Linked DNA regions of Homo sapiens. The protein of the gene in region 1 interacts with the protein of each later gene in a pairwise test. Each region holds a gene or a part of one and is shown in the gene's direction. Other genes may lie near its edges.

What was found.
Region 2: the proteins of FEZ2 (region 1) and PDCD7 interact in a two-hybrid assay, tested with the Homo sapiens proteins (one study listed by BioGRID).
Region 3: the proteins of FEZ2 (region 1) and RAI14 interact in a two-hybrid assay, tested with the Homo sapiens proteins (one study listed by BioGRID).
Region 4: the proteins of FEZ2 (region 1) and RAB3GAP1 interact in a two-hybrid assay, tested with the Homo sapiens proteins (one study listed by BioGRID).

What each region holds. Positions count from the first base shown.
Region 1 is NC_000002.12:36,553,157-36,560,192, reverse strand, and holds part of FEZ2 (fasciculation and elongation protein zeta-2), read left to right. Parts: intron 1-1,679; coding exon 1,680-1,755; intron 1,756-4,444; coding exon 4,445-4,510; intron 4,511-7,013; coding exon 7,014-7,030; 3' UTR 7,031-7,036. UniProt on the Homo sapiens protein: Involved in axonal outgrowth and fasciculation.
Region 2 is NC_000015.10:65,130,789-65,138,007, reverse strand, and holds the start of PDCD7 (programmed cell death protein 7), read left to right. Parts: upstream 1-4,199; 5' UTR 4,200-4,226; coding exon 4,227-5,096; intron 5,097-7,219. UniProt on the Homo sapiens protein: Promotes apoptosis when overexpressed.
Region 3 is NC_000005.10:34,659,294-34,666,329, forward strand, and holds part of RAI14 (ankycorbin), read left to right. Parts: intron 1-7,036. UniProt on the Homo sapiens protein: Plays a role in actin regulation at the ectoplasmic specialization, a type of cell junction specific to testis. Important for establishment of sperm polarity and normal spermatid adhesion.
Region 4 is NC_000002.12:135,167,258-135,171,212, forward strand, and holds the end of RAB3GAP1 (rab3 GTPase-activating protein catalytic subunit), read left to right. Parts: intron 1-435; coding exon of another isoform or gene 436-456; intron 457-1,287; coding exon 1,288-1,524; 3' UTR 1,525-2,476; coding exon of another isoform or gene 2,477-2,502; 3' UTR 2,503-3,453; downstream 3,454-3,955. UniProt on the Homo sapiens protein: Catalytic subunit of the Rab3 GTPase-activating (Rab3GAP) complex composed of RAB3GAP1 and RAB3GAP2, which has GTPase-activating protein (GAP) activity towards various Rab3 subfamily members (RAB3A, RAB3B, RAB3C and RAB3D), RAB5A and RAB43, and guanine nucleotide exchange factor (GEF) activity towards RAB18.

The sequences.
Region 1 (7,036 bases):
ATTTGCTTTTTATTCACATTTTTGTATAATGATTGAAGGAATATCATGAACATGGGAAACATTCACATTAATGGGTATGCTTAAAATTACCTTTCACTATATGAAATTTTCACCTTGAAAAAGAAAAGTCTTTAAGTTAGCTCTTCTGTGCAGATTAAGAAGGTGTACAAAATGTAGCTTGTAGGAAGTTTAGCAAAAGAACGCCTAGATCAAATGCCTGGAGTTTTTACTGCAGGTAGTTAAGTGTTTCTCCGGAAGGGAGATCATTCCTATTAAAGAGGGAAGCCTCACACTGACATTTGCAGCTCATCAATGAGCTCCATGAAGGGATGTTTGAGTTTTTGTTTTCATTCCGTTGCCTCTCACCTCTCTCAACCTCAAAAGAAGACAAGGAATCTTCCAGACTGTCAGTGGAGCAGGGAGGCCTGAAGATGCAGCCAGGTAGCCAGAGAGCGGGCCAGGGTGCAGCCGCCTGGTGCCTCTCCAGGTTGCCTCACACATGCAGAGTGAAGCCAGGAGGACATCATTTCTGGCCTTTTGTTGTTGTTGTTCTTTACAAAGAAACATTCGATTATACAATTGGGCATCACCTGCAAGAAGTCTACGTCAAAAAGACGGTGGGACACTTAACGTGTCTCAGAGATTGAACTATGCAGTTTTACCACTTTTCTGGACTTAGGGATCCAGTTACTGTAAAGCAGCTTTCTTTATCCTGTTTTTCAGTTATGGGCAGGATAAGATCACTCAGTGAGGATTAGCCACAGAGCTGAGATTTAGGGCACGAGGTTAAATAATGGGTGGAGCTAAGAGATTCCAGGTAAAAACCACTGGCTTTCTATATGAGCATATGTGAAATGCACGGAACTATTTTTTTGGTGGGATGGTAAGAACAGGAAAATCTGGACAATCATTTATGGATTATGCTTTCATGGGATTAGTTAAAAGACATGGCGCTGTTACTTGTGAGCCTTTACAAGTAGTGAACTAGGAAGTTTATCTCAATTTCAGACATTAATTTTCATTATTCATTTCCCCTTAGGCCATTCTCTACTTTAACTTTTCTCCTTTAATGCCTAAAAACGTTTACAATGACTTACCCAATAATTTAAAATAATAGTAACGCATTTCTAAAACGATTTAAGTGTGTCTTTGTTAGCTTCTGAAAGAAGCTAGTGTGTGTTTTTCAAAGTTGTCATGTTATATATGTGGACCATTTGTTCAACCAGAATAAAAATGGTCTGAAACAGAATTATTTTGCTGTTGGAAATTACTTTATTGTGCAGAACTGTTAAAACTATGTTTTTAGTTTAAATTGCTATTTTTAAAATGTGTTGAAAAATATGCAAGTAGAATGTGAGATAATACTTCACTTTAAAAATGAACAAATTGAGTAAACCATCCTCAGACTTAGTCCTATGAAATTTTCAATAACTGAAATGCAAAAAGGTGGTTGTTTCTGTTGACATTAGGTTTGTATGAAGCAAATAGAGGTGGGCAAAAAAAAATGAGCTCCATCTGAGATAGTAAGATAACTTTATTCCCATACAATACCTGTGTTTTCATTACCAAAGTAGCTTGTGTTTTATATTATCAGATAGACCTTCTAGTAACAGTATCAAATTTTTTGCAGATAAGGTAATTCCGATTTAAGTGACACTTTTTTTTTTTAAACTTGGCAGTATTTGACTACAGTCATTCCTTATGAGAAAAAAAACGGACCACCGTCTGTTGAAGATCTTCAAATATTAACAAAAAGTGAGCAAAGACAAAATGAAACTATTACCTGATTTCCTTTTGCTGATTGGTAAACACCTGACTTTAGTTGGCTGATTTTGTTGTTAGTGTTTTGTCAGTTTAGGATGTAAATGATGCATATAATTGTTTATTTTTATAAGAATGAAGCCAAAAATGGCTGTGACATTAAATACAACAGTAACTCTAGTGTTGATTTGTACTTTTTCTGTTTTTCTTACCTTGTGAAATATTTATGAGCTAAAATTTTGGGAAAAAGCATAACCTAAATCTCCATCATCTCTTACATGTTTAAGAACATATCCATTTATCATAAATAAAATTCCTTATGGATCTTATATATCTATGATTGTCAGTAACTGAATAGGAAAGATTTACGGTAAACACTTTTTATTTCTTATGAATGTAGAACCCGAGGTAGTAGTTATAGGTAGAACATAAATTGACAGTGATGTTTTAAGAACATGCATTCATTCAGCAAATATTTAGTGAAGGCCTACTCTGTACCAGGCCATGATCTGGGCACTTGGGATACTTTAGTGAACAAAGCAGACAAAGATAATGCACCTTCAAGGGGCTTGCCTTAAAAAAAAAATTGTTAGATTTAAATATACATGATATTGAGTATCTCTTATGATGGCCGCAAATGAGCCTTGAATTCTGGTTCTATCCCTGTTATTTTCAGGGATATCCTTGGAAGTTACTTACTCTCTTTTGCTTACATTGAAAAACTAGGATAAAAAATATTTGTTCTATTTACCTCACAGTAAATAGATTAATATATGTATGATTTTGGCTAAGTTACTATCAATTAGCCGTTAAAATGGAGGGATTGAATTTGCTGATCTGTTAGGTCTTTGTTATGGTAAATATTTATGATACTTGCTAATTAGGGGGGAACCAAATGAAAGAGCATCACATGGATGAGTATGGATGATGATACTTATTTTGGAAATTTAAGAGGAATGGGCAAGGAAAACCTAAGAGTAGAAGCAAGTGTCTTATTTCTTAGCTCCCTGCCTGCTAACTTGGAGCTTTTATTCTTTCCTTTGGTGAATAATTCTTTAAAAATTTTATATTTAAATATGGATAAATCAAGTGATGCCAGCCAGTCTGAAATAAAAAATCAAGAGATTAACTGGGTAGCTAGCCCTCTTATTTTCAGGAAGAACTTAAGTTATATGTGTCCAAGATCACACAGGGGGATGGTTAGTTACAGAGCTGGATCTCTTAATTCCCAGGCAATTATACTTTTAATGATGCTGGTTTTTGGTATGTGATTTTATTTAGAAGTTAGAAAAAATTTTAAACATGATTGGAAGCAGAAATACTGAACATGGTAGCCCTCTAAAGAAGGGAACATAAATATTGCTCATAAGCCAGGAATTACTGGCAGGCCTCAGCTTCTCAGATCAAGAACAAATACTTCATTGGTCAAACTAAAGTCATCATAATTCCAGCATCGAGATGTCTTTATAGGTTGTCACAGTTTGGAATCTCTGGACATATTTGGGTCCAAAGCTCCTTTTCTTTCCAAAAGAAGAGCCCTGTGGAGACAGTCACAGTGTTTATGGATATATAGTCTTCCTGATAAAAGCTATTAGGGGATTTTGGGTGCAATAATAATAGTTAATAAAAATTTAAATAATTTGAGTAGTGTTAGTTACAGTTAATACATAGCATGTACTATGTGCCAGGCACTATGATATGACCTTTATATCTGAATTAGTAGCTTAGTCCTCATAACAAACCTTTGAGATTAAATCTAATTATTATTCTCATTTCACAGATGAAGAGCTTGGTGCAAAAGTGGTTAAGTAGCTTGCTCAGCGTCACACAATTAGGAAGTGGCAGAGCCAGGGTTTAAACCCAGGAAGGCTGATTTGACAGTTACACTATTTTGCCTTGTCGTATTGGTGGGGAAAAACAGTGAAATATTTTTACCAGGATGCTTTGGAGAAAATTTGAGTTGGCAATCTCTGTTAAAGTATAATATTTGTGAGTTTATCTCAACCTGAATGGTCTAGCTTAAAAAAGAAAAACGTTATACTAGGTGGCTGCTTTTTCTATTTTAGTTTTTACTTAGAAGATAAATTTGTCAAATTAGAATGAGGCTAATTCTCCCAGGTTTCTCCCTAGTGCAGAGGAGGCAACAGCCAGGCAGATGCCCGATGCTGCTTCATGGAAGTCTGTTCTTCATTTGGGTCTTTTCTTTGAAAGTTTCTAAGGAGTCTGACAGGATACGCTTGTTGGAGGGTATAGCTGTCCATTTCTTTAAGAGTTTCTCTAGTTTGCTTGATCTGCAGCACTGAGGTTTTCTTGCTGCACAGAGTTCATTGAGGTGCACATTATAGTAACCCACTTTCCGGTATTATTACAGAGCGAAGGCTCCTTGTAAATAACCCAGTTCCTCTTTTTTTGTCTCCACTGTTTGGAAATTTTAAATCAGGGAAGCAACTCTCAGGTAAGTGGGATATTCTTACCGAAAATAAATTCTTGTGGACTTACTCCACTAAAATAAATTATTGGGCCTTTATTGTTGTATCCCCTTATCAGGAAAATCACCTATAATTTGTATGAGTCAGTTATATCCTATAATTAAGGAAGATTAAGGCCACAATGATTGAAATTAAATAATATTTTTGATCTAAATTTTTAATTGTTGTCTTTTTTCCCCTCTTCTATTTTGCAGTTCTTCGTGCCATGAAGGAGGACAGTGAAAAAGTTCCGAGCTTGTTAACTGATTATATTCTGAAAGGTGAGTTTTATAATGGTATAGGTGCGATGGCTGGGAGGTTTGGATTAGTCAGTAAATACATCGCCTTGCTAATACATTAGACAGTAACTTCCCAATGCACAACTTTCATTAATCTTATTATGCAGGGTGAGGATTAGCTACATGACTGACTTCTACCAACATTATATATCATGGTTTTATATAATTTAAGTTTTATTGGAGGTTCTGGGTTGGAAATAATCTCCACAGTTAAACTATAAACATCAAGAGAGGTAGTAGAAGAAAATTAGTGAGATGGCACCATAATCATGTGGGTATCAGATGTTGGCAGATTGGCACTGGGAAATTTGAGAAGGGTGGTCTCTGTCATCTTGAGGACAGTGGAAAGGAGGACAGATCATTAGTGAGGACGGATGAAGGAAGGAAGAGTCACATCTGTGAACAGTGCCAAAGGGAATACGAAAGGGACTGATGTAAGACACAGGGAGGGAAGCGGGGAAATAAAAAGAATGGACTTGCATAAACCCAGGAAAGTGAAAAAGCAGCCACAAATCTTAGAGGCAAGGTGAGGCTCACACAGGGTGGGAATATTGATGAGGCAAAAGAAGAGTGAGAGGTTGAGTTGCTTTGCCGAGAAAAGAGCAAAGTTTGGATGATAAAGAAGGGACGGAAGAACTTAATTAGAGGCAAAATTAATACTTTACGATGAAATATTTTTTTAAAGTAGCAGGTATTCAGGGACCAGATTTTGAAAGCATCACAAAATGCATCTTTGTAGTGTTTGATCAAATTTTGAGAGCAATCCTCTTCTAGTAACAGTCTTCTTCTCTGGGTTCTCTCTCTTCTCCATTAAAGTTAGCTGAGCACAAGGAAGATGAAGATTTCTGAGACATTAGAAACCTCTGATGGTCTTTTCTTAAACCATAGTGTCATGAAAGGGGAACCTCAGTAGTATACACAGGGTGCTCAAAGTGAATCACACATTTCACTTGTAAGAGTCTTGATGCGGTGAGAGTAAGAAGCATGAGCTAGACACTAGTGGGTTGACACTGGAGTAGAACAGACTGAGTTGACATCATTTTAAAAAATAAGCTTTTTTTCTGATGGAGGACTTTTTCTCCCTATAAAATTCTGAAAAATTTTTTTTTTAATACCTGACATCTTTGTTTGCTTTTGTGTTGTGCTAGCATTGGTATGAAAGCTGGATTGTTCTGAGGTTCGTTCTTCTAGATGTGAAACAGGAATGAGACGAACATAAAGAACATGTCTTAAATTTTAATTATATCGGGTTCCTAGGCCTCTATGAGGGCCAGAGATAGAATGAGCTTCTGAAGCATTCTCTAGCTATTTTAGCATTTAACTGCATGGAAGGATGTTATGACCCAAAGAACAGAGTCCTCTGGGGAAAAATGATTTTTAATTCTTTACTCTGAAAACCTAGGACTATAATTGTGAACCTACCTATACCGCATGCCTTAGGGAAGCAGCACCCATCTAATTCTGCTCCTCATGCTCGGGCCGCTGGCTCCTGTCTGTAAGCCCAGTTCTATCTATACTGTACCTGCTTCTGATGAGCTGTCTGTGTGCATGTGTTGTGGTTTTGTCTTGGCTTTGTATTGTGAGGACTGGGTGGAAAAGCAGCAAGGATTTAGACTACAGTGGAGACTGTAGTCAGAGAAAATGAAGACGGGAGTGCAATGTGGAGATGTATTTACCCAAATGTGTGTGGGAAGGTGGGGAAGTCGGGTCATTGAAAATGCTCTTTTCCACCCATCCTGAAAGTTCACAGCTGGTTAACTGTTCCTCTTCCTTGGGGACCAATAATACGACACTTTGCCCGGGAGGGGGATATTGCTCAAGGGGAGAATACTCCTTCCCCTTTTTTGGGTGGTTTGTTGTTGTTTTAACACAGATGAGAGTGTGGCTTGGCTGCCTAAATACACCACTTAGTTTTAATGCAAATGTCAGAAGTGAAAGAAGGTAGAAAAGTGGTCTCATTTGGCCTGAGAAAAGGGAGTAGGGTGGGCACTGTATGGGCTAATTGAGCTTCTCTTTCTCGCACCTGCCTAATGACCCCACTGCAGCCTGCCGCCACTGCTGCCTTGACAGTAGTACCCAAGGCTGATTCTGAAGTAATGTACGCGTGGCTGCTGCCGTGCTGCTAGTTAGGAATAAAAATGTGTGCAGAAACTTGCACCCTTCTTTGACTTCCCTAGGGATCCTGTTTGTTGTGTCACAAGCCTCATGGTATAGGGCGAATGTTAGGGGCTTCTATCTCCAAGTGGCACCCTAAGAGACATGGCCTTTTGGTATCTCATTTCTGGGAAATTCTAATGTGTGTTGAGAGAACTCATCCTTGTTGGGTATAGCCTCTTAAAACCTTTAAAAAATTGCTACATAGATCTTTGCATTAACATTTAGTTCTCATTACTTAATGGTTTTTAAATGTACATGTAAAATGTATGTTTTGTGTAAATGTATACAAAATATACATTTGTAGCTAAAAGTTCTCTTTTTCTTCTAGTTCTGTGTCCTACATAGAGCAGC
Region 2 (7,219 bases), on another chromosome or scaffold:
TTTCTTTTGTAAATTGCCCAGTCTTGAATATGTCTTTATCAGCAGCGTGGAAACAGACTAATACAGTAAATTGGTACCCGTAGAGTGGGGCACTGTTTAAAAGATACCCAAAAATGTAGAAGCAACTTTGAAACTGGGTAACAGGCAGAGGTTAACAGTTTAGAGGGCTCAGAAGACAGGAAAATGTGGGAAAGTTTGGAACTCCCTAGAGACTTGTTGAACGGCTTTGACCAAAATGCTGATAATGATATGGACAATGAAATCCAGGCTGAGGTGGTCTCAGATGGAGATGAGAAACTCATTAGGAACTGGTGCAAGGGGGACTCTTGTTATGTTTTAGCAAAGAGACTGGCAGCATTTTGCTTCTGCCTTAGAGATTTGTGGAACTTTGAACTTAGGAGAGATGACTTAGGGTATCTGGCAGAAGAAATTTTTAAGCAGCAAAGCATTCAATAAGTGACTTGGGTGCTGTTAAAGGCATCAAGTTTTAAAAGGGAAATAGAACATAAAAGTTCAAAAAATGTGCAGCCTGACAATGCCATAGAAAAGAAAATCCCATTTTCGGAGGAGAAATTCAAGCCAGCTGCAGAAATTTGCATAAGTAACGAGGAGTTGAATGTTAATCTCCAAGACAATAGGGAAAATGTCTCCAGGGCATGTCAGAGATCTTTGCGGCAGCCCCTCCCAACACAGGCCCAGAGGCCTAGGAGGAAAAAATGGTTTCATGACCCAGGCCCAGGGTCCCGCTGCTGTGTGCAGTCTAGGGACTTGGTGCCCTGTGTCCCAGCCACTCCAGTCGTGACTAAAAGGGGCCAAGGTACAGCTTGGGCTGTGGCTTCAGAGGGTGCAAGCCCCAAGCCTTCACAGCTTCCACATGGTGTTGAGCCTGCGGGTGCGCAAAAGTCAAGAATTGAGGTCTGGGGCCGGGTGCACTGGCTCACGCCTGTAATCCCAGCATTCCAAATGATTGTGAGGCCTCCCTAGCCATGTGGAACTGTAAATCCATTAAACCTTTTTCCTGTATAAATTACCCAGTCTCAGGTATGTCTTTATTAGCAGCATGAAAACAGACTAATACAGAGGGTCCTTGGATCTTGTGCAAGAAAGATTTCAGGGCAAGTCCACAGTGCAAAGCAAAAGCAAGTTTATTAAGAAAGTAAAGTGGTGAAAGAATATCTACTCCATAGACAGTAGGGCGTTCCTGAAAGTAAGAGGAGAAACGTGTCCACCCTAGGTAGAATGCTTGCTTATATATAGGATAAAAAAAGATCATGGGGAGATGTGCTCTGCCACAAGGGTTTGTGATAAAGGATTAATTTTTTAAATTACTATATTTTACAAGAATCAACATTATTATCTTTAAAGCAAAATTAGGAATGCTTCTATTCTCAAAATATCGGGATCTCAGGACACTCCTAAGTACGGGTCTGTTTAGTAAATGTTATTAGTCTGTTCCCTTAACCATAAACATCTAGAGGCTAGGAATACCTAACTTCCTGGGAATGCAGCCAAGCAAGTCCCAGCTTCACTTTTCCTAGCCCTCACTCAAGATGGAGTCACTCTGGTTCAAATGCCTCTGACAATACTGTACTACAGTTTTACAAGATGTTACCCTTAGGGGAAACTGGGTAAAGGGTACACAGAATCTCCCTGTATTACTACTTCTCATATTCCATATGAATCTACAATTGTCTCAAAATAGTTTAATTTTAAAAATCTAATCAGGTGGCACAGGCTTCTCTTTACCTCTTGTTTAAAACCAATAGTTTCCCACTGGTCACAGTGGCTCACGCCTGTAATCCCAGCACTTTGGGAGGCTGAGGCAGGCAGATCACCTGAGATCAGGAGTTCGAGACCAACCTCAACAGGGAGAAACCACGTCTCTATTAAAAATACAAAATTAGTCGGGCATGGTGGTGTGTGCCTGTAATCCCAGCTACTCAGGAGTCTGAGGCAGGAGAATTGCTTGAACCTGGGAGGTGGCGGTTGTGGTTAGCCGAGATCGCGCCATTGCACTCCAGCCTGGGCAACAAGAGTGAGACTTGGTCTCAAAACAACAACAACAACAACAAAATAGTTTCCCATTGTTCATAAGATATGAGACCCCAGACATTAGGACTTCACTTCACCAGGATCACCAGACTCCTCTCAGAGCTCCATCCATAACTCGCATTCTTTTTTTTTTTTGGAGACAAGGTCTCGCTCTGTCTCCCAGACTGGAGTTCAGTGGTGTGATCTCGGCTCACTGCAACCTCCACGTCCTGGGTTAAAGCAATTCTCCTGCCTCAGCCTCCCCAGTAGCTGGGATTACGGGCACGCACCACCACACCTGGCTAATTTTTGTGTTTTAGTAGAGACAGGAATTCACCATATTGCCCAGGCTGGCCTTGAACTCCTGAGCTCAGGCAATCCACCCGCCTCGGCCTCCCAAAGTGCTGGGATTACAGGCCAAAACTGGCATTCTATCAGGCTTCCCACTAGACATAGTCCTGTAACCTAAGGCAGGTCCAGTTCCCTGCAGCTTGCAAATTCAAATAACAAGTAAGAGAATGGTAAAAAGAAAGTGACTGCCACGGGCACGGTGGCTCACGCCTGTAATCCCAACATGATCCAAGGCAGGCGGATCATGAGGTCAGGAGATCGAGACCATCCTGGCTAACATGGTGAAACCCCATCTCCACTAAAAATACAAAAAAATTAGCCAGGCATGGTGGTGGGCACCTGTAATCCCAGCTACTCGGGAGGCTGAGGCAGAAGAATGGCATGAACCCAGGAGGCAGAGCTTACAATGAGCCAAGATCACGCCACTGCACTCCAGCCTGGGCGACACAGGGAGACTCTGTCTCATAAAAAAAAAAAAAGAAAGAAAGTGGCCAGGTGTGGTGGCTCACACCTGTAACCCCAGCACTTTGGGAGGCCAAGGTGGACGGATCACCTGATGTAAGGAGTTTACGACCAGCCTAGCCAGCATTGTGAAACCCCCTCTCTACTAAAAACACAAAAATTAGCCAGGCGTGGCAGCAGGGGTCTATAATCCCAGCAACTGACTAGGGAGGCTGAGGCACCAAGAATAACTGGAACCTGGGATGCAGTGGTTGCAGTGAGTGGAGAGTGCGTCATTGCACTCCAGCCTGGGTGACAGAGGGACTCTGTCTCAAAAAAAGTGGGGGGTGCACGGGACTTGGTTGACCTGGATGGCATGCAAGGGGTGGGGAGGGACCAAGGAGGTGCTGGGTCTATGGGACTTGCTCCTATGTATCCATCAGTGATCTGGTTGGCGCCATGGAGGCTGGGGCGAAGGCGGAGGGGGGGTGGGGGGTAGCGGGGAGCTAGGTTGTAAATTGACAGTTGTCCCCAGGCAATCCCCTGGTATGGGAAAGTTCCAGAGGTCCCTGGTTTAAGCTTCGGTCCTTGGAACTAATAAGCGAACACATAATTAGATAAGCTTACAGTGTAGAGAGTGTCTGGTGGAGAGAAGGTAAAGGTTAATTGGATTTTTTTTTTTGACAGGTGTCATTCTGTCGCCCAGGGTGGAGTGCAGTGGCGTTATCGTGGCTCATTGCAGTCTTTACCTCCCAGGGCTCAGGTGATCCTCCCACCTCAGCCTCCCCAATGGCTGGGACTACAGGCCGATCTCGCCTGCCTCGGCCTCCCAAAGTGCTGGGATTACAGACGTGAGCCACAGCACCCACCCTATAATTGCATTCCTAAAGAGCTAAATAGGAGGTGGGGTGAAAGGAGAAAAGTAAAAATAATTCATTTTTCTAAGAAAATGGGTAGTTGGTCACACTCCTATTTACTAGGGCCTTTGCACATGTTCTCATCTGCACTGTGCTTCCCTCTCTTTTTCTATTTAACTATTTATCTTCCAGATCTCAGCTGCAGCCGCAGTTTCTTAGGATAACCTTCTCCAACTTCTCGAAGATACTCACCATGATTAATTGATTAGTGTGTTATACTAGGCAGATAGTTCCACGAAGAGAAGCTCTGTATCTCTCAGTCTCACTGTATGCGGAGTGGGTAGCTCTGCACCTAGGATGCTCAATAAGAACGGTATTTATGAACTGAACGACAGAAGGTTGAACGACTGCCCACTTATGCACTGAGCCTTCCGGAGGGACGAGTCTACAGGGGTCGCGCGTCGTAACGACGTCACTTCCGTCGGAAGGTTCTCATGAGGAGCCACTCAGATTCCTGTCACTTCTCAAAGCATCTCCGTCGTGAACATGGCCCTGCCACCATTCTTCGGCCAGGGTCGCCCAGGCCCACCGCCCCCGCAGCCGCCGCCTCCTGCTCCTTTCGGCTGTCCGCCACCGCCGCTGCCCTCCCCGGCTTTCCCGCCGCCTCTCCCCCAGCGGCCCGGCCCTTTTCCGGGGGCCTCCGCCCCCTTCCTTCAGCCTCCGCTGGCTCTGCAGCCCCGAGCCTCCGCGGAGGCCTCCCGCGGCGGAGGCGGCGCTGGCGCCTTCTACCCGGTGCCACCACCGCCGCTGCCTCCTCCGCCGCCCCAGTGTCGGCCCTTCCCGGGGACCGACGCCGGCGAGCGGCCGCGGCCACCGCCTCCCGGCCCGGGGCCGCCCTGGAGCCCGCGGTGGCCTGAGGCGCCGCCGCCGCCGGCCGACGTGCTCGGGGATGCGGCCCTCCAACGCCTGCGCGACCGGCAGTGGCTGGAGGCGGTGTTCGGGACCCCGCGGCGGGCAGGCTGTCCGGTGCCCCAGCGCACGCATGCCGGGCCCAGCCTTGGCGAAGTGCGCGCGCGATTGCTCCGGGCTCTGCGCCTGGTGCGGCGGCTGCGCGGCCTGAGCCAGGCCCTGCGCGAGGCCGAAGCCGACGGCGCGGCCTGGGTCCTGCTGTACTCCCAGACCGCGCCGCTGCGCGCGGAACTGGCCGAGCGGCTACAGCCGTTGACCCAGGCTGCCTATGTGGGCGAGGCGCGGAGGAGGCTGGAGAGGGTCCGGCGCCGCCGGCTGCGGCTTCGCGAGAGGGCCCGGGAACGCGAGGCCGAGCGGGAGGCAGAGGCCGCGCGGGCAGTGGAACGCGAGCAGGAGATTGACCGCTGGAGGGTGAAGTGTGTGCAGGAGGTGGAGGAGAAGAAGCGGGTGAGAGCAGCGGCCGCTCATGGGGGTAGGAGTGGTGGTGGTTGGAACCTGGAGCAGCAGGAGGCTTTAAACTTCCATTTCCCAGGGCTAAGCCTCTGTTTTACGCGCAAAATGAAGCGATAGCTAACCTTCCCAGCTCATACCACCATGTTAATTTTGTGTTAATGATGTGTGGTACACAAAAGTTCCAGGTGCACTGTAAAATCCTGTAAACACAAAGTATAGGATTACACGGTGGCACTGCACGAATGACAGGTCTCCCCTATCCTGCTCCAACATTGTCCACTTACTCTCAAAACCAGTAAGTGTCTAGTTCCTTGTGTCTTGTACTGCCCTAGGTGGTTTTAAGAATACAAAATACAGGCCGGGCGCGGTGGCCCACGCCTGTAATCCCAGCACTTTGGGAGGCGGAGGCGGGTGGATCACGAGGTCAGGAGTTCAAGACCAGCCTGGCCAAGATGGTGAAACCCCGTCTCTACTAAAAATACAAAAATTAGCCATGCGTGGTGGCGGGCGCCTGTAATCCCAGCTACTCTGGAGGCGGAGGTTGCAGTGAGCCGAGATCGCACCACTGCATTCCAGCCTGGGCGACAGAGCAAGACTCCGTCTCAAAAAAAAAAAAAATAGAGAACTTGGGGACCCTACCTCAAGGAATATATATACTCTAATTAGCTGATGGGGCAATAGTGATTTCCCTAGGATTCTTTTGTTTACAAGTTTTAAACCATGTATCCCCAGGTTCAGCAATGGTGTTTCGGAGCATTTACTATATATATATATATATATACACATACATACATATATATACACATACATATATGTATGTGTATATATATGTATGTATGTGTATGTGTGTATATATATGTATGTATCTGTGTATATATAGAGAGAGGTGTGCTAAGGTCATTACATATACCAGATTTTGAATCTTTATAACAGCCTTGAGAAGTAGGAAGTATTATGCTAATTTTACAGGTTAGGAAGTTGCATAGAGAGGTTAACTTGCCAACAGTCACACAACGAGTTTGTGGCAGTTTCCCATATTTGATCCCAAGTTGTCTAATTCCAAAGCGTATTGATCTCAGACTCTTTAAGCAGGGCCAGGGTAAAACTGGAAATTGTTCAGATGGTTTTCTAAGGCATTTTCTTTCTTTCTTTTTTTGAGATGGAGTTTCGCTCTTGTTGCCCAGGCTGGAGTGCAATGGCATGATCTTGGTTCACCACAACCTCCACCTCCCGGGTTCAAGCGATTCTCCTGCCTCAGCCTCCCGAGTAGCAGGGATTACAGGCATGCACCACTACACCCCAGCTAATTTTGTATTTTTAGTAGAGACAGGGTTTCTCCATGTTGGTCAGACTGGTCTCGAACTCCTGACCTCAGGTGATCCACCCGCCTCAGCCTGCCAAAGTGCTGGGATTACAGGCGTGAGCCACTGCACCTGGCCGTCTAAGGCATTTTCATTACCTTTGATTGCCTCTGGGGTTCCCTTTCCTCTTCCTCATTATTTCTATTATTATTACATTATAATACATAATGAAATAATTATACAACTCACCATAATGTGGAAACAGTGAGAGCCCTGAGATTGTTTTCCTGCAACTAGACAGTCCCATCTGGGGGTGATAGGAGACAGTGACAAATCATCAGGCTTTAGATTCTCATAAGGAGCCCACAACCTAGATCCCTTCCATGCGCAGTTCACTTCTTTGTGCTCCTATGAGAATGTAATGCTGCTGTTGCTGATCTGACAGGAGGCGGAGCTCAGGTGGTAATGCAAGCAATGGGGGAGTGGCTGTAAATGGAGATGAAGCTTCACTTGCTCGCCTGCCTCATCTTTTGCTGTGTGATCTGGTTCCTAACAGGCCATGGACTGGTTACCATCCGTGGCCTGGGGTTTGTTGACCCCTGGCTTAGAGATCTGTGGGAGATCATGTCAGTATAGCGTGGTGTGTGTTAGGAATTCAACTATAGGTGCTGTAAAAGCCCAAAGAAGGAACATCTGATTTACTGAGGGAATGCTTCCCAAATGATACAATGACACGTAAGCTGAGTCTTTTTTTTTTTTTCTGAGACAGAGTCTCGCACTGTTGCCCGGACTGAAGTGCAGTGATGCCGTCTTGGC
Region 3 (7,036 bases), on another chromosome or scaffold:
GTCTCGCTCTGTCACCCAGGCTGGAGTGCAGTATCGTGATCACTGCTCACTACAGCCTCAATCTCCTGGGCTCAAGCAGTCCTCCTGCCTCATCCTCCAAAGTGGCTGGGACCACAGGCACATGCCACCATGCCTGGCTAATTTTTTTCATTTTTGTAGAGACAGGGTCTTACTATGTTGCTCAGGCTGGCCTTGAACTCTCAGCCTCAAGTGAGCCTTCTACCTCAGCCTTCCACAGTGCATGAGCCACTGTGCCTGGCCTAGTTTTTCACTGTTACACTTTTTCTGCTGAGTGACACTCTATTTCCATTTTCATTTTTATTTTTATTTCTTTTTACTATAACAGTTTGTACAATAAACATCCTGAGATGTTTTCTTGTGCACACATTTTTCTGTTACACACTTATTTAGTTAGTTGCTGGGTAATGAAGTTTAGGTAATATTGCATTTATTATTCATTCTTCAACAAATATTTAGGGTGCTTGTATGGTCTTGGCTATCTGTTGACTAAAAAAGTGAAACTGATTAAATTCTAAGAAGATTACATAGTTGGCTGGATTATTTTTTTCTTTTTTCTTTCTTTGTTTTAATTAAGAAAAGTGGGACTGGTGTAGTGTTGCATGCCTGTAATCCCAGCACTTTGGGAGGCCAAGGCAGGAGGATTGCTTGAACTCAGGAGTTCAAAACTAGCCTGGGAAACATGGTAAAACCTCATCTCTACAAAAAATACAAAAATTAGCTGGGTGTGGTGGTGTGCCTGTGGTCCTAGCTACTCAGGAGGCTGAGGTGGGAGGATTGCTTGAGTCCTGGATGTCAAGGCTGCAGTGAGCCTAGATTACACCACTGCATTGCAGCCTGGGCGACAGAGTGAGACCCTGTCTCAGCTCCCAGCACTTTGGGAGGCCGAGGCAGGTGGATCACCTGAGGTCAGGAGTTCGAGACCAGCCTGACCAACATGGAGAAACCCCGTCTCTACTAAAAATACAAAATTACCCAGGCGTGGTGGCGCATGCCTGTAATCCCAGCTACTCGGGAGGCTAAGGCAGATGAATCGCTTGAACCTGGGAGGTGGAGGTTGCAGTGAGCCGAGATCCCACCGGCCATTGTACTCCAGCCTGGGCAACAAGAGTGAAACTCCAACTCAAAGAGAGAAAGAAAAAGAAAAAGTGGCTCTTCATTGTAAAATTGAAGCATGAGACAAATCCATGGTGCTGTTTGGGATTCTTGTGCAGAAACCTTTTCTCAGCTACTCACTGGCCGTGTGACCTTGGATTACTCACCCAACCTCCTCTTCCTCATTTCTTTGGTAAGATTAAGGGGTAGGAGTAAGCATTTACAAAGGCACATTCCTGTTCTAAGAGTCTGTGAAAATGTTGCTGTGTTAGTGACGCATTTTTACCCTAATGGTAACCACTCAGGCTGAAAGGAGTTTAAGGCATTTAAACACATTGGCGTCCTCATTCCTTCAAATTGCTGGGCACATTCTTTTTTTTTTTTTTCCCTAAGTTCATGTCAGACACATGTTACACATGCAATCATCATGCTCGTGAATTCTGCAAAAGGATCACCAGGCGTCTTGCCTCAGAGCCTTTGCATGTGCTCTTCCCACTACCTGGAAAGCACTTCTCTTAGACGTCTACATGGCTGTGTCATCCCTTCAGGTGTTATGTTGAGACACCTCCTTCCAGTCCAGCCTGCAACCTCATCCCTGCTTTATTTACCTCCAAGGCACTTACCACCTTCTAGCTTGCCGTGTATAGGTTGAGTATTCTTTATTCCAGAATGCTTGGGACCAGAAGTGTTTCAGATTTTGGATATTTTTAAAATTTTTGGAGTATTTGTATTACATGGTTGAACATTCCTGATCCAAAAATTTGAAGTGCTCCGGTGGGTCTTTCCTTTGGTGTCGTGTAGGTGCTCAAAGAGTTTTGGACTTTGGAGCATTTCAGATTCAGATTCAGATTCCTGGTTTAGGGATACTCAATCTATAATTTATATCAGTATTCTGTACTAGATTATGAGCTCTACAAAGGCATGGGGTTTGCCACTCTTGTTTACTGTTGTATTCATGGTGTCTAGAACAATGTTGACCCCTAGCAGGTAAACAGATGTTTGATGAACAAATGGATATGCTTTTTGTTGTTATTTTTTCTCTGTGGAATTTCGCCTTTAACACTTACTGGATATCCTAAATGGTGCTGGTATGTGCACCATATCTCATATTTACAGATTCCTTCAGGGTAAGAAAACTTATGTCTTCTAGGGAAACCACTCCTTTTAAATCTATGTGATTTATCCTATAAGCCACTTAATGTCTTCAGACTTTTTTTCTCCCAACATTTTGCCTAATCCTGAATTTAGAGGAAAACATAAGTAACACGGTGCTTGGAAGCACACCCATCTTTCCTTTTGTGATAACCTGGTTTCCAATGCGATGAATGTGGAAGATGCATAACCAGTAGATGCTGACTGTATTCCACACGACATCTGCAGTAACAGGCCAGCAGCCATCCCAAGCAACATGAAGCACACTGCATTTCTTTCTTTTTTCTTGAGATGGGATCTTGCTCTGTTCTGGAACTCCTGGGCTCAAGTGATCCTCCCACCTCAGCTTCTCAAATAGTTGTGTCTACAGGCGCGTGCCAACACACCTGCCTAGTTTTTCTTTTACTTTTTACAAAGACAAGGTCTCCTTATGTTTTCCAGGCTGGTCTTGAACTCCTGGGCTCAGAAGGTCCTCCTGCTTCAGCCTCTTGAAGTGCTGGGATTACAGGCATGAGCCACTGCCCCCGGTCCACACTGCGTTTCTAAGAACAAACAGTGTATTTTGTTGGATTGTTGCAGAGTGTACATCATCATTGCCCTGACTTTGTGCTTTTATCTATGAGGATTTTTTTGGAGGGGGAGGAGGGATGTATTTTTCATGATGGAAGGAAAATGAGAACCTTAATCTGAAGATGTTGGAGCAACTAATATGTAGAAAGGTCCCTAGATATACTCTAAGAATTGCCACATCGTACAGTCCTTAATTCATGGCACAAAAAACATTCACTATTATAGCACTAATGCATTGTTTCAGTAGAAGCCAACTGAATTTTTTCTACCTTGCATGATGAGTATAGGAGTTGACAAAACAAAGCTAAATATATCAGAGGCCTCTTGGATGCATTTTATATGGTGATAGGGAAAAGGAGTCTAGATTTTTTTTCCCAGTGAACTATATTAGGTATACGATACTGATGATATCCTTTAAAACATTACTAGAATACTGAAGTACACCATTTACATTTCTTATTGTATCCTCTGTAATAAAATGATATTGAAAGAAATCAGTATATTATGGATCCAGATAGGGTTAAACTTTAAGCTGAAAATCATAAACATAGAATTATATGATTATTAGTAAAATGTTGCACAATTTAAACAGATTTTTTTTTTTTTTTTTTTTTTTTAGACACAGAGTCTCACTCTGTTGCCCACGCGGGAGTGCAATAGGGTGATCTCGGCTCACTGCAACCTCCGCCTCTCAAGTTCAATCAATTCTCCTGCCTCAGCCTCCTGAGTAGCTGGGACTGCAGGTACATGCCACCATGCCCGGCTGATTTTTGTATTTTTAGTAGAGATGGGGTTTCATGTTGGCCATGGCTGGCCAGGCTGGTCTCGAACTCCTGACCTCAAGTGATCCACCTGCCTTGGCCTCCCAAAGTGCTGGGATTACAGGTGTGAGCCACCATGCCCAGTTTAAAGATATTTCTTCCCTTTGTAGTTAGTCATGAGCTGAAAAGTACAGGTGGTTCAACAAAAGATAAAAATTGTTCATCAAATGTCAATTTTCTAGCTCCAGCCATCTACAATGAACAAAAAAATTAGCCTCGTCTTTGACATCAGGCCCACTGAGAGATATCAGCAAATCTAATCAGTATTTTAAAAAGTAACTTTTGGCCAGGCATGGTGGTTCACACCTGTAATTCTAGCACTTTGAGAAGCTGAGGCAGGAAGATCACTTAAGCCCAGGAGTTAAGAGACCAGCTTGGGAAACATGGCGAAACTTTGTCTCTAAAAAAATACAAAAATTAGTTGGGCATGGTGGTGCATTCCTGTAGTCCCAGCTACTCAGGAGGCTGAGGTGGGAGGATCACCTCAACCCATGAGATCGAGGGTTGCAGTGAGCCAAAATCTTACCACTACACTCCAGCATGGGCAACAGAGTGAGACCCTGTCTAAAAAAATAAATAAATACAAATAAAAAGTAACTTTACTGACTTAACCATGTGTTTAAAAACAAAGCAGTACCTTCTTCTGTTTAACTGAAGGAAGCATGCCTTGTTCTTCAATTTTATATTCTATGTGTCCAGTAGAGTATCTGCCACACAGTAGGAGATTAACATCTCTCAACTACTCCTGCCTCAGAGGTCATTAAGCCCCTCATGGCGGTCATCAGATATAGAGTTGTCCTAGTCTAGAGGAGAATTAAACAATAATCAAAAGGCAGAAATCAGCAACAAAGTGCGAAGTCGAAGTTCAGAAGATGTGAAAGAAACACTTTTCCTCCTTATCCACTCTTTGCGGAAGTTTGTGCATTGTGTCTTGATTGATTCACCAGCTGGGTTTTTGTGATCAGTGTCACCTCATCTAACCTTACTTGCGATCTAGGCCAGTCCCTTCTGTAGTGAATGGCATTCACTGGAAATTAGTCTTGCCGTATAATTCCATGACCATATGTCACACCGGGGCAAGGGGACACCTTTGGGAAGTTCTTCATGATTTGCTAATCCCTGCTTCTAAATAAGCAGAATCTAGTTGTGAGAAAAGGTGGTTGTAGTCCAAGAAGCTTACTGTACAGTGGAAGGAAATACATGGGCTCTTTTTTTTTCTTTCCTTATTTATTTATTTATTTTCTTAAATTGACATTTAGGCCAGGCACAGTGGCTGCTGCCTGTAATCCAAGCCCTTTGAGAGGCTGAGGAGGGCAGACCACTTGAGCTCAGGAGTTCAAGACCAGTCTGGGCAACATGGCACAAAACCCCATATCTACTTTAAAAAAAAAAAGTATATTTATATTGCAGTGAGCCAAGATCACACCACTGCACTCCAGCCTGGGTGACAGCGAGACACTGTCTCAAAAAAAAAAAAAAAAGGAAAGAAAAAAATTGACATTTAGTGAACACCAAAGCTTATTATCAAGGAACCAGTTTCCCTTACACTTATTTATTATATTACCTTTTAAAGCTCAACTTAATTTTTCATATCCATTTTAGGTATTGTTATCGATAAGATATTCTGTTTTCTTATGATCTAGATAAGTTCAATTTGCTTAATTAATTTATTTATTAAATTTTTTATTTCCATGGGTTATTGGGGAACTGGGTGTTTGGTTACATGAGTAAGTTCTTTAGTGGTGATTTGTGAGATTTTGGTGTACCCATCACCTGAGCAGTATACGCTGCATCCTATTTGTAGTCTTTTATCCCTCACTCCCTTCCCACCCTTTCCTCCTGAGTCCCCAAAGTCCATTTTGTCATTCTTATGCCTTTGCATCCTCATAGCTTAGCTCCTACTTATGGGTAGGAATGTACGATGTTTGGCTTTCCATTCCTGAGTTACTTCACTTAGAATAATAATCTCCAATCTCATCCAGGTCACTGTGAATGCTATTAGTTCACTCCTTTTTATGGCTAAGTAGTATCCATCATATATATATATATATGTGTATATATATATATATGTGTATATATATATGTATATATATGTGTATATATATGTGTATATATATGTGTATATATATGTGTATATATATGTGTATATATATGTGTATATATATGTGTATATATGTATGTGTATATATATACACATATATATGTGTGTGTATATATATATATACACACATATATATATGTATATATATACACACACCACAGTTTCTTTATCCACTCATTGATTGATGGGTATTTGGGTTGGTTCCACGTTTTTGCAATCAGTTTGCTTAATTTAGCTGTTCTTTTCAAAGAGATAATAACTCTAAAACTAACAAGCAGCATCTACCTCTTTTCACTTTCACTAAGTCTGTCCAGTTCCTTTTGCTGGCTGAAGTGATAGACACTCAGAAAACAGGCAGTGTTAACTGATGGAGAATAAAAGGCCAGAGAAGCCTCCTTTTGCACTAGGGCAGCACAGAGTAAAGTGTTTTCCATTTTTTTTTCTTTTTTTTTTTTTTTCTCTAAGAGGAATCCATTTGCAAACCAGAGAAAACCATCCAGCAGTGATTCTTAAATATTCGTGAGGCATAGATGGACACTTGCAAATCTGATGGGGGTTTTGGACCATTCTTCCTTGGAGAAACTGATGTATGTACAATGATGCTATAAATTCATAATTTTTATCAGTCTCATGAGTTTCATGGAACTCCTTGCCCTAAGGCCATTTATAAACCTCCTTGGAATACCCAGGTTAAGAACCCACAATGACCACCTCTCAAAGTTTGAGAATACAATTACAAGGGCTCTATTTTTCTATCATGTGCCGCTATTCCCCACCCCACTGCCACCCACAGTTCGAAAACCTATCATACATGAGTGAAAAGTAATAATTGTGGGTTTTATACTCTCAATTTGAAAACTAGTCATCGGTTGCTATGTCAACCAGTCAACATACTATTGACCATTTTTAGGATCTATTTCTATTGGATGTAATAAAATGCAATTTATATGCAATGAAAAGGTGGTTTTGTAATATGACTATTTCACAGAGACCTGATGAATTCTAAGGATGAGTCTTAAGTTTCTCACCCCAAGGAGTTGGGTCTGTTCTGTCTTCAGCTTTTGGTGGCAGCAGTTTCCCAGTTTTGCTGTTAACAGGAAGGAATGGAGATGTCCCAGGCCCCACCTGACAATTCTTGTAGTCTCACAGGAGATGTCCTGCGCCCCACTTGACAATACTCCTAGGCTCACAGTAGGTGTCCCAGGCAACCCCTGACAGTACTCCTAGGCTCACAGATGTCCCGGCCCCCCGACAGTACTCCTAGTCTCACAGTAGGTGT
Region 4 (3,955 bases), about 99 Mb from region 1:
GTATGTACATACTTAAATGGAATTCAGCAAATAAATGACTGACTGGATTTCGCTTCAGACTTGCTAGATTGAATAACTGTTAGGCACCTATTCCTAAATTCTATTTTTCAAGCCATGAACACTTTTTTTTTTTTTTGCATCATAATTCCCAGTAAAAGAGCTAGGTTTTTGTTGTTCATTTCTCCCATTAAATGACATCATATGTCACCTGTTGAGCCATGGATGCATGAGTAGTAGTAGATGTCTGCTGTAGTTGACAGCTGGGTGTGCTGTGTTTGGTGTGACTTTGTCTTGAATATTCTTTTGATAGGATCATGTTCCATAATGTAGTGCATACTGTCTTTGAAATAATCCTGAACTCCCTTGTCTAGCCCTATTTAAACCATCTTGCTTGTTTCCCTTTCATCACTGTTTCTTTTCTTACCCCTTCTCAAGCTGACTGAATCTTCTGATGAGGTAACAAAATAGCCTTTGCCCCTCATAGTTCCTTGTTCCTTCCCATCCCTCTAATTTCATAAGGTCATTAACACTAACCACCTCTCTCACAGTCTGGATTTGGCTTACCTACCTTGCTGATGTTTAGCGCAACATGATTTCATGTTTCCATTGCCAAAACAATTTTTTTTCCCAAATTGATGGTATTAAAAAAAGTACAGTAATCAGAATTAAAATTGTAGGCTGTAAATGAACATGCATTTTATGTCATTTCAATGAAAAAATAGATGCCTTTAATATTGCGAACTTCTCTTTTGTGGTCATTGCTATATGGGCCTCTATCACTTCGGCATCACATTAGCTGCCCAGCAAGCAAGACCAATGCCCCCACTTTTAATTTGGCAAGTGAACCTTAAAAAGAATCGATTAAAAAATTCTTACCCAGAGTCAAGATGAAAATCATCTTTTCACTCTGGAGAAAAACAGCTCCTTACTGGACTGAGGCTGTCAGACGTAGACTTGGGTCATTGCTGGAAGAAACATAGAAAGCAGCACAGCTCCGAGGTCCTTTTTCATCAGATGTGTAAATATGGCCTTCTCTCTTCAGAGCAGATTGCCTGGCAGTCATCATCCCTCCTGTCTGTCTCCAGCCCGGCTGCTCATGCAGTGTCTCAAGCTTCTTGCATTTGCTGTGTTATGTGGTTTTTGAGTAATCTTAACATATAGCTGACTGCATTACTGAGTAACGTGGGACATTTTCATATCTTTATTATGTTAATTCATCTGTCCTTCAAAAGCATCTGAGTTTAGCATTTGACCTGCTTTTGACTTTAGCATTTGATTCTTTTCCAGGCTGCAGCTATGACTCCACCAGAGGAGGAATTGAAGAGAATGGGCTCCCCAGAGGAAAGAAGGCAGAACTCCGTGTCAGACTTCCCACCCCCTGCTGGCCGGGAATTCATTTTGCGCACCACTGTGCCGCGCCCTGCTCCCTACTCCAAAGCTCTGCCTCAGCGGATGTACAGTGTTCTCACCAAAGAGGACTTTAGACTTGCAGGTGCCTTTTCATCAGATACTTCCTTCTTCTGATTCTTCTAGCATTACTCGTTGGTGGCTTCAGAGACAGTGCTGCCTCCTCCTGAGGGAGGGAAGGTACCAGGGAGAACCTGGGAGGTCCTGGAGAGGGCCCTGTCCAGTTGGGTGATCAGGAATCAAACCAGCATCGGAAAGACTTCCCAGCACCAAGCTTGAGCTGTGTCGTTTCGTGGAGGGGGCAGCGAGGATGGGCTTGAGCTGTTGAGAGATTTCTGCCCTAGAGATGGCCTTTGTATATGGGGGGGTGGTGGGGGGACACAAACACATCAGACACTCCGTCCTCACACTGGCAGGACGGTGTTCATCGCATTCTCTTCTGTGACCAGCCTCTAGGCTAGCGGCTGCATTCGTGGTCTGTGCAAACACTTCGTGGTTCTATATATCAGCAGCAAGTGTGCAAAATAAAGGACCTGTTAACTCAGATTTCTGGATATTTTGGTGGTAGCTTCTAGTCCCAGAATCTGTGTTTTTAAAATACTACATGACATTCTGTCTATTCAATCACCTGGTGGTCATCTTTCTTGTACTAATTAACTGTTGATGAGCATTTTGGATATTCTAGGAGAAAGCCTATAATTTCACATAGTTTCTCTTTTTCATGTAACTGTAACCTAAATGTATTACTTCTGATAAAACTATATATCAAATGTCACTGCAAATTAGTTTTATATCTGTCATGTGAGATTTGTCTTACTTATTTTTCTTTTGGTTGCCATGGAAGTTATGGCCCTGAAAATCGTCTCCCTCCCCTTCTCTTGCTGTACAGCATGCGTTCTCTTTTTGTGGTTGCTGGCTGGGTACTGTATTTAATGAAGTAGAGAATAGCACTTGCAAAAATACAGTCTTGGTACCTAGAGACTGTCATGCAGATAGTATAATTTGGTATATGTGCTAATGCATTGAGTAGAGGATTATTTTAACACACTATTTTGCTTTTGTATTTTAGTTAAAATAATCGATGGGGATGTGTAGCCCCCCCGTGTGAGGATGACATCACCACATTTCTAGTTTCATGGAGCTCAAGATGTCTTGTGTCTGTGTGGCTAGATGGCCTCTGCTTGGTAATCTTATTTTTAGGCCTAAAATTCCCACTTAAATCCAAAGTAAAAATGGTTATACTGAAGCATAAACCTTGCCTGTGTAATTTTAAAAAATTAATAGAGCTGTGCAAACCCTGTTATTTTTGTAAAAAAAAAAAAAAATACATATCTATATATAATATGTGTGTGTGTGTGACATATGCACACGTCTCTGTGTATGTGAAGTAGGGGAGGCCCTGGGGGATGACCTCCCAGCCTTTATGATGCTTTTCTCTATGCTGCTGGACTTCATTCTTACTGGTCCACGCAGATGCAGGCGGCCTGAGGCCAGTGCTGTACCAAGTAGAAGACGGTTCCTAAGGACAGAGTTTGTCTGTTTTCTAACAAAGAAAAATTCTACAAAGGAGAGGTTGGGCGTTACAAAGGCATTGTGAATCTAATAAAAGGAAAGTGTCGCTTTCTGTGGCGTTTTCTTTCATTTTCTCCCGCTGAGGCATTTCAGTCTAATTTCATGTGGTTTTGTGCTGTCTCAGCTCTAATGTTTGCAGCCTGCTGAGCCTAACAAGGCAGTGGTCTCAAGAACATTCTTTGTGCCTTTTTAAAGTACTCCATTTTATTTTTATGATAGTTATGTATTTATTTCACAGATATATTTAAGTACCCACTTTGTGTCAGGTACAGTACAAGCAATGAAGATAAAACAGAAACCAAAACACACTCCCTTACAGGGAAAACTGACACCACGTTGCCACAAAATGTTGAGTATAGTCAACTCTGCTGTGTGGATCGGAGGGCCTGCATTTATCCTACAAATAATTGAATGTAATCCTACATTCATGTATTCATTGGCAGTACGGAGTAATAAATGCAGCAATGTCATAAAGTGTTGTAGGAGTTTCTTCACCCAGGCTTTGAGGATCAGGAAAATTACCCCAGAGGGTGTGATTTTGGGATTGAGACCAGAAGCTGAGTAGGCACTGGGGAAAGCATGGGGGGCGTATGGGAAATGGCTTGCAGAGAACCAGGCATTCCTCCAGCCCTGTGTGCAATGAAATCATGATTTTCATTGTGAAGTGCTTTATTTCTCCACCTCTTCAATCTGGTCTCGGCCATGTCTTTCTTTGGTCAACAGACAGAGACTTGACAAGTCCTTGCACATTGGGGCTTGCCCTCCCTTCTTGCCAGGAGCCTTGAAGCCACTGTGAAGAAGGCCACTCTAGGGTGAGAGTTGGGGCAAAAGGTAACTGACAGGAGGGGGCAGAAAGCGTATTACAAGCAGAGGAACGGAATGGGCAAAATCCCAGAAATAAGGGAAAATGTCTATTTGGGGGGCAGCCAACATTTCTATTTGGCTGAAGTGTGGTATCTAGAGTGGGAAGGGGCAA